Linked DNA regions of Homo sapiens: region 2 is linked to region 1. The links come from fine-mapping of genetic effects on gene expression. A gene starts in region 1. The other region holds a variant in brackets. All regions are shown on one strand. Distances are between the middles of the regions.

What was found. PIP is the estimated chance that this variant, and not a neighbour inherited with it, causes the effect. A credible set is the group of variants that fine-mapping cannot tell apart.
Region 2: its variant is the best candidate, but not a certain one, in a credible set for the expression of ARSJ in cerebellar hemisphere (GTEx, PIP 0.88).

What each region holds. Positions count from the first base shown.
Region 1 is chr4:113,977,305-113,981,703 of GRCh38, forward strand. ARSJ (arylsulfatase family member J) reads right to left here and starts at 2,343. Exons shown (of 2, transcript NM_024590.4): 1 at 1,133-2,343. The coding sequence starts at 1,530. It overlaps LOC107986305 (a long non-coding RNA gene), which reads left to right and starts at 2,509. Exons shown (of 2, transcript XR_001741794.2): 1 at 2,509-2,682; 2 at 3,066-4,224. LOC124900762 (a long non-coding RNA gene) reads right to left here. Exons shown (of 3, transcript XR_007058237.1): 3 at 3,591-3,660.
Region 2 is chr4:114,112,954-114,117,352 of GRCh38, forward strand. No RefSeq gene overlaps it. Among named protein-coding and RNA genes, the nearest start is that of ARSJ, 140 kb to the left of the region's middle. The variant C/T (reference allele first, on the strand shown) is at 2,727.

The sequences.
Region 1 (4,399 bases):
AATTTTTTTCTTTTCTGGCAATGATGCTAAGTTCTGACAGTTTGCTAAGCAGTGGAAATCATGCTGTAAGCAAAAGTCTCTGCGAGACAGAGATTCTTACAAAATAGTCTTTATTTTTCCAATGGATACTGGCTACTTTTATAGGATCCAATTCCAAGAACAACTTCACAGAAGCAAGGGTTCCCTGTCCTGCAACTGAAATCACAAGACATAGATTGAAATGGCTAAGGATTTTCTTCTACCTCTGTCCAGCTTAACCCCTGCCCTTCCTAGTTTATCTTCGTTCCACAGGCTGAATTTGTACATCCAAATCAATTACAGTAGCCTGTGTTCTGATAGGATAGAGTAAAAATATGAAAATGTTTGAACAATTTAAGTAGAAGATTTAGCTACTTAGCAAAGCAGCAACAATATGAAAAGCACTTTACTTAAGCATCCAAATAGTCTGATTTCTGTTGGTTAGTCAGAAAATTCCAGACCTGTGAAGAGCAACAGAAAACTGCAGATGAAGTTTGACTCCTCTTGAGCACTTACCATTGTATTTCCTTGCATTTTGAGAACTGCTTTGCTAATTAAATATGGCCTTCATTAGGGGGTCTCATAAGAGAAAATGACCCATCAAAGACCGAAGCAGAGTCATACATAAACTGGTCATATTTTACATTACTCTATATCTGTTTCGTTGGTTCATTTTCTCTGATAATTCTAGATTTAAGAATGCACCAAGAGTAAAAAAAATTTTTGATCTTTCTTATCAGTGATGGTGAGTGTGAATTCTAGTATGACATCTGAAACAAAATCTGAGCATGCTCAAAAGTAGAATAGATTTGAAACAGGAGACCATTTCTGGAAATCTCTGGTTTGTGGGTATTTATACGTTCTCATCTCATTTAGAAACTTATAATTGGCTCTGTAAAAAGGAAAACTAGACTACACTAGTGACTAGAAAATTAAGATCATTAACATTGTATCCATTTTAACACGGTACCCCAATACCATACATCATTCATTCATTCTTCATTCATTCAGTTGTTCCCCATACTTTCTGTTACTCCCTTAAATTTGGAGCTGGATCTTCATTAAATGCTTAAGATTTCTCCAAGGAATAAATATAAGAAGTAGGAACACTTACTTTCCAGTAATAAACTGACTCCTGGATGGTGTGCAAATAGGCTGGACATAGTAGTTCTCCAGTTTAACTCCTTCGGCAGCGAGCTTGTCAAGAGTAGGTGTTTTAATCTCAGATCCGTGGTAACCCACATCTCTAAATCCCTGATCATCCGCTAGGATGAAAATGAGATGGGGCTGGGAGGTGGAAGTTGTGCTGGGCTCTAGTTTCTCTCCAGCTTGAGCTAGTAAGGCCCCTTCTTCCTCCTCTTCTAAGGCCTGGCCCCAGGACAGGTAACCATAAGTGAGGAGGCAGAGGATCCAGAATCCTGCCAGCGCCCCCATTGCTAGCATCTTTCCAGGACAGACACAGGCCTGTGGAGAAGGCGGAGGCGGATGCCCCGCACAGCCCCTGGGAGCCATTCACTCAGGTCCCAGGTGAGACTCCACGCGGAGAACCACGCGCCCCGCGCCGCTGCGGGCGCACACATGCACCCAACAGACGGTGAAGACTCTCCACCTGGCAAGAAATCCTCCTCTCCTCTCAGCTGTCACCATGTCCGACAACTTTAATCTTCCAGAAGTGATGGCTTAATGGATGGGACTCCGGAAGAACAAGGAGGGCTCGCTCTTCTCCAGCACATTTCACTTTCTCCTCCTCCTCCCCCCTCCCTAGAGCAGCTTCCACCAAGGAAAAAAAAAAGAAAAAAGTTAATATCTCCACCCAAAAGTTCTCTGGAGAAAAAAACCAAGCAAGGAATTGAGAATCACAGTGGACAGGAACTTTTCGTGGCCAGAGCGCCCTCGACGTTGGGGAGCGAGGCTGACTCTCCTGGGAGTGCTGGTACGGAGGGCGGCGGGATCGGCCGTCTGTCCTGCGGTCCCCACACCTGGAAAGAACTGCGAAGTGGACGCGTCGCGTCTGGCTCTGATCAGACAGATAAACTGCCGTAGTGGACCGGCCTCCTGATCACCTTCTCCACTTTCCCAGGGCTATTTTCCCCAGTCCTTTCCTAGGCGTTTGCCAATCTCCCCGACACTCACCAGGCGGCGAAGTGAGGAAGAAGCCGTTTCCTGATCTCCCTCCACCTCCGCAGAAACTCCGGGCAGCAATTCCTTTTCCCCGCTGCTAGGGAGCCTGAAGGCCAAAGCCGGGTCCCTAGCCCCGCGGCCGGTCCGCGCGGAGCCCGCTTGGTCTTTGCGTAGTTGGCGCACCCGGCGCAGGCGCTGCAAACTGCGTGCGTTTTCTCAGCTAACTTATTTAGCTTTGGCACTCCGAGTTCTTTTGCCTCCTCCCTCTTTTCTCTCCAGTGAATCACAGAACGGTACTTTCTTCCTGAGCTCCCCCGGGAAGAGGGGGTGGGGGAAAAGGACTGTTTAGAGGCTCGATCTTTCCTTTTTCTTTTCCGGGAGGTGGATGGCCAAGGCAGAGGAGGCTTTGCCAGAGAGAGAGCTGCGTGCTGCTCCAGCCCAGCGGGATTCCGGGGGATCCGCCTGGGCTACCGCGTCCCAAGAGTGTCGCCTCCTGCCCATCACCCCGCTAGAGGGAAAGGACGGCGGCGCGAATGGGGAAGGGTAAAGCGGGCACTTCTTTTCGTGGGGCTGTTGGTGAAGAGCCCCGTCTCCCATCCCTAAAGTTGCGCTTGCAAACTTTTTCTAGCTTCTGGAGGGAGTGAGAGAGAAGGAGCAGGAATAAAAACAAAATGCGTATGACACTCTTTCCTCTTTCCAACTTCCTTTGCAGGTTTTCCTTTACTAGTCCCCCCACCCCCATCATTTTCCTATTCCTTTTGTCCCTACCTTTTTTTTTTTTTTTTTCAGTAACGATGACAAATTTTTAAGTTTTATTTCCTCTCCCAATAGCTGGCTTTTACAGCCTGATTCTTCGTTACCCTTTCCCTATGTGAAAATACTGGAATTGCCCGCTCCCTCTTACCTCTCCCCTAACTTACCCACAGGGTGTCTCCAGCCAAAAGCCTGGAGAGGAAGAGTTATGCATTTCTCCTTCAAGAACCCCGAAGCCAGTCTGCATTCCTGCATTAAAGAAGCCAGTGTTTCCCATCCAGTAATTCAGGGAGCTTCATCATTTTTTTTCCTTCTTTCTTTTTTACCATGTGGAGGAAAACCATTGTAAAAACTTATCTTGGTTGTGAAAATACTCTTGATTTTACTAGAGTCATAGAGTTTTAAAGTCCTGCTCAAAGGCAGCAGAGGGATGTATAGTATAGTCTCTATAGAAGAGGCAATGAATGCCAAGAGCCACTGAGATATTTTTTTCTACCACCAAATTTATTCAACAGTTACTTACTGAATACCTACTGTGGGCTGGCACATAACATGTCAGATTCTCTCAATTGACTGAAACATAAATCTAGGTTTCATTTAGCCATTTATTTCTAATTCTCTCCTGTTGCTAAAGTTCCTGCTGAGTTCCCAGGCAAAACTTTGTGAAATGGGAACTTTGAAAGGCACGATGGTGCTCCATGAAGTTAACCTTGCTAGCTGCTGTAGGCCTTCTGGTCTCTGTTCTTCCTTGCAGCCCTTCTGGCTAAGCTGGGGAGAGATAGTCAGTTTTAGAAGCCATGTTCAGAAATGTGAGTTTAGCAATTCTGTAAATTAAGTCACCAAATATGTAATGAGAGTACTGAGTGTCAGGGGATTGAAAAGCATTGAGAGGTAGGGCCCTAGGCTTAATGGGCCTAGCCAGGTGCTTGAATGGGAAAGATGCAAACATTCTGGTCAATCTAGCCTTTTATTTGGGGAGATAGTGACTTCTTGTGACATAGCACAAGAAGTATCCATGTTCTGTGCAAGAAGGAGACACATTTTCAGTTGAGGTTCCAAGCAATAATAATAAAAAACAATCAAAATGTATGGAATACTTACCATGTGCTAACCATAGTATTCTATATACTGATACATACACACATATACAGTCGCATCTATCAGGGATTAGTTTCAGAACCCTGAGGGATACCAAAATTCATGGATGTTCAAGTCCCTTATGTAAAATGGTGCACTATGTGTATAAAACCTACATATTAATGTATCTTCTATGCTTTAAAACATCTCTATATTACTTATGATACCTAATACAATGTAAATGCTATGAAAATAGTTGTTGGACTGTATTATTTTTATTGTTGTATTGTTATTTTTTTTTCTTCTTTCCTTGAATGTTTCCAGTGTATAGTTGGTTGAGTCCCATAATGTAGACCCTGCGAATACAGAGGACTGACTGGGTATGTTTGTTTATATAGTGCTATATACAGTTTATTTCTTTTCCATCTAT
Region 2 (4,399 bases), 140 kb after region 1:
GTTTGTGATGAGACCAATTTGTGCAATAACATGAGATTTCTCCTGCTATACTTAGTCATTTCAAATGGAGATGGAGAAACAGAAATATTAACATGGAATTAGGAACTACCAAAGTATGTAAAGCAAAAAATTAATTCTTGGCTGCTTATTCGAGATCACAGCTTAAAGATTGACCATGGTTAGTCTGGTTAAGGAAGTAAATGAGGCCAGAAGAGAAGCTTGGGGAATAGGACCAGATTAAGGGTTTACATTGTGCAGTAAAGATCAGTATTTGAAGGATTCACACATTGGGAGATTTGGAAGAAACTGATGCTGTGATCAGATCTTGAAGGTTGATCAGTGAGAGGCGATGGTGTGCTTCAGGGTGCTGCTGCATATGTGGGCCGAAGTGGAGAGGATGGGCATTAGAGTTAAGATGTTTTGAAACTTAAGGGCTCTGCTGTTGGAAAGGTTATCCATGTGAACAGTCACTTAAATTATGGTAGAACAAAAAAAGGAGAGCAAATATGCAATCTAGTTGCTAAAACTGAAGAATATGGAGTACTCTCTTGCAAATCATTTAAATGATGGACAGGAAAAACAGTGTAAACATATCATATGGATTACAGAAGAGAGGAAATGGGAAGCCAACAGGAAAGAAAGAGGATGTCAGCTCATTTCTTGTTATTGTGAGAAGAAAATTTGCATAGCACCTTGCACAATTTATGTACACAGTAATTTTATTTAGCTTTAAGATAATTGTGAAGTTGACGGTTTCTGATGAAACAATAACTTATAATTTAATTACAGAGTTACTTAACCACTGCTAGATCTCAAAATATGTATCATTGAGAAATTAGATTTAAATTGAGGTACTTAATTATTTCCATTAACATAGATTATTACAACAGTGACGAAGTGGAAATTTTATAGTCTTCAACTTGTGATATGAGTAAATGAAGTAAGATTAGTGAAATTGAATAGACCATAATTGTCAGGATCCATGAGCCAGATACTGCCTATGTTATTTTTCATGTTTCGGTCCTACTGGGTGACATAAATTATCTTTCAAAAGTTTTGGTACTGACTATGTATAGAAAAAAATGCAACAAAGAGCTAAATATTTGCTACTGAAGAAAAGGCAAGCAAGTTGCAGTTTATTTGGAGTTGGTATCACTCCACCAGTGTTCAAGATTTCTCATTATAACCTCTAACTCAAAAAGATGTTCTGCCCTCAAGAAATAATATCTAAATGTCTATAGTTATTTAGAGTTCAAATAATTTTCAGTTGCAAGTTTTCAGTGGAAAGAATCTCTGTGTTGTTATTTTTTAAGGAGGAAATTTTTATTTTTCATCTGTGTAAGCAGACTCTATTAAAGCTGACAGCATAAGAAGTTTTGGAGAGAACTTTTTGACATCTATGTGATGTGCTCAGAAGAAAAATAATAATTCTAAATTTTAGCCAAATTGAAGCCTATCTAGAAAGAGCTAAATGGACATCCCAGCATATTAATCTCTGGCTTGTTTGGTGCAGCTTGCTTTGATAATTACATAAAAAGATTACAGTAACAAAAAATCACACCTTAGTTAAAGGTGTGTTCTCCATTGTAAAGCAGTATTTTGGTTCTGTAGTTCAGTCATAGCAAACGTGACTGAATGAAAATTTAGACAGGTCAGGCCTCAATCTAGAAGAAATGCAAGGGAGAAAAAGTCACTTGTTCATTTTTACTCTAGAAGGAGTAATACTACAAGATGTTTTAATGTTGAATCAACAACTTGCTTTGGATTATATTTTCTAAAATGTAATCCAATACCTGTCTTTTTTCTTTTTCTTTTGAAATAGTTTTAGACTTACAGAAGAGTTGTGAAAATATTACAGAGTTCACATATTCTCTTCCCTCAGTTTCTTCTTTTTACAATTTATAAACCATGAAACAATTATCATTCACATTATTACAATACCATTAACAAAGCTACACCCCATATTCAAATTTCACTATTTTGGCTCCTAATATACTTTTTCTGTGCTAGGATCCAATCCAGAGTTCCACATTACATTTAATTGTTGCCATAGTCTCTACCAATTTGTGATAGTTCCTCAGTTTCTTCTTCTCTTTCATGACCTTGACATTTTTGATAAGGACTAATGGTTACTTTTTAGAATATCTCTCAATTTGAATTTGCCTTTAGTTTTCTCCTAAGGTTGAGGCTGTACATTTTTGGGAAGAATACCACAGAAGTGATGTTATTGTCCATCTATGCCCCTGCATCATATCACAGGTATTTATGATGATATATCTTTTTTACTGGTGATGTTAACCTGGATCATTTGGCTAAGGCAGTGTCTGCTGGCTTTCCCACTATTTTTGCCCTTGTAATTGGTTAAGTATCTTCAGAGTGATACAATGTGGGTATGCAATGTTTCTCCTCAAACTTTTGCCCAATTTTTGCAACTTCTTGCCTGCAACAATTATGACCGTAATGTTTGTAGTTGGCCATCTTAAAAAAAAAGCACATTTGTTTCTAATAATGGTATATTTAAATGAAAAATGCAAACTCAAATCAGTCAACATTTTGCTTTTTATAGAGTTATCAGATGGCAATCTACAGGTTCATAGTTTAAGCAATGCATCCTAAAAGAGTTAAAGGATGTGAAGTAATGAAATAGAAATTTTAATTATACTACCTGTATTTGCTGCATAATTGGAATTTCATTTCCATTCTGAATTTGTTGGGAGAAGCGGAAA[C/T]AGCTTGCTGCTTTAGTGGGCTGGCATGTTTGCAATGAAATGTTCCAAGCTTCTCAGCAGTCAGGTGAATATCCCAGCCTGAGGTCACCTTCACTGTATATCCCTAAGATAAAAGCAATTTTAGAGTATTTTTGATCCTGAGGATGTCCTAATTATCCAGTTCCAGAAATTGCCAATTGAGGCGATATTCAATTCTAACCCTACTTTCCATTTTAGACTATTATTATTAACACTACTATTATTGTTATTAAACAATTTTTACTCTTGTGAAATTTCCCAATTAGTTTAATTAATTGTGTAGTCTCTAGGTTTCTGAATATTTGAGACTCAACAGCACTAATCTTTCTTCTCCACTTCCTTCTTCCTTTATATTATCTTGTTCTTATTGGTGTGTAATTCCAAAGAAACAGGATGGGAGATGATAATTATTTTTAAAGCCCTGAGAAATTTTAGTTTACTATACAAAAACCTAACTTACATTCACACAAAGTTTATTCTATGAAATAATTTTCATAAGTGAGAAAGAATATAACTATCTATGAGGGCTCTGTGTGTGTCTTCTTATTTGTAATAGTTTTATCTTACCTGCCTAGAACAGCCTCTGACATATACTAAGTTCCCAATAAATATTTGTTAAATATTATGTTAAGTTAAATAGCCAGGAACAGAAAAGTAAGCACTGCATGTTGTCACACACATGAAAGCTAAAAAATGTCAATCTCATAGAACTGAAAAGTAGAACCGAGGATACCGTAAAGGCTGGGAAGGGGAAATCTAAGGGGGGAATAGAAAGAGATTTGTTAAAGGATACAAAATTACAGCTAGATAGGAGAAATGCCTTCTCGTGTTTTGTACCTCTGTAGGATGACTATAGTTTATTATACAGTTTCAAATAGCTAGAAGGAGAATATTGAACTTTTCCAACACAAAGTAATGATAAACGTTTGAGATGATAGATATGCTTATTACCCTGATCTGATCACCGTAAATTATATGTATCCAAACATCACTTTGTACCCCATGAGTATTCACAATTATTATTTGTCAATTAGAAAAATAAAATAAATAAAATTGTGTTCTTGTAGACATAAAACAATTGCTGAGTGAATAAATTAATTTTAGGCAAAATAAAAGCCTCCTAACACCACAAGAGTGATATGAAGAACTGATAGCCCTATCTCTTCTCCTCATTAACATTTTTATTTCTTTAGTCATTTATGAGTATGCATTCATGGTTCTTATTTTACTGTATGAGTTATAATCTGTTACTATCACTATTTATTTTAATCCTCAAATTTTTGGACTGGGCTTTCTTGACTAGAATCTACCTGTTCCTCAGCCGACTGTGCATGACTGATTTGAATGCCAGCTGCTCCTGGGTTGCAGCTTAATCTAACACACTCCTCCTAACGCACTGTCTATGCTGAAGTGTTTTCAAGTGAGTTACAGACACTGTAACTAACATAAGGGTCCAGTTCTGTAGGGAATCAATTAAAGTTGAAATATGGGCCTCCAAGTGAAAACCATAAGCTTTGAAAAACAAGCATTTTGAAAATGCTTTGAAGCATGAGTATCAGTCAGGCCCTCAATGAATTCAGGTAAGGCTTGTCATTTGATGTATCACTTATTGAAGCACACAATTTCTTTGGTATTTTGAAAAACAATTATTCAAA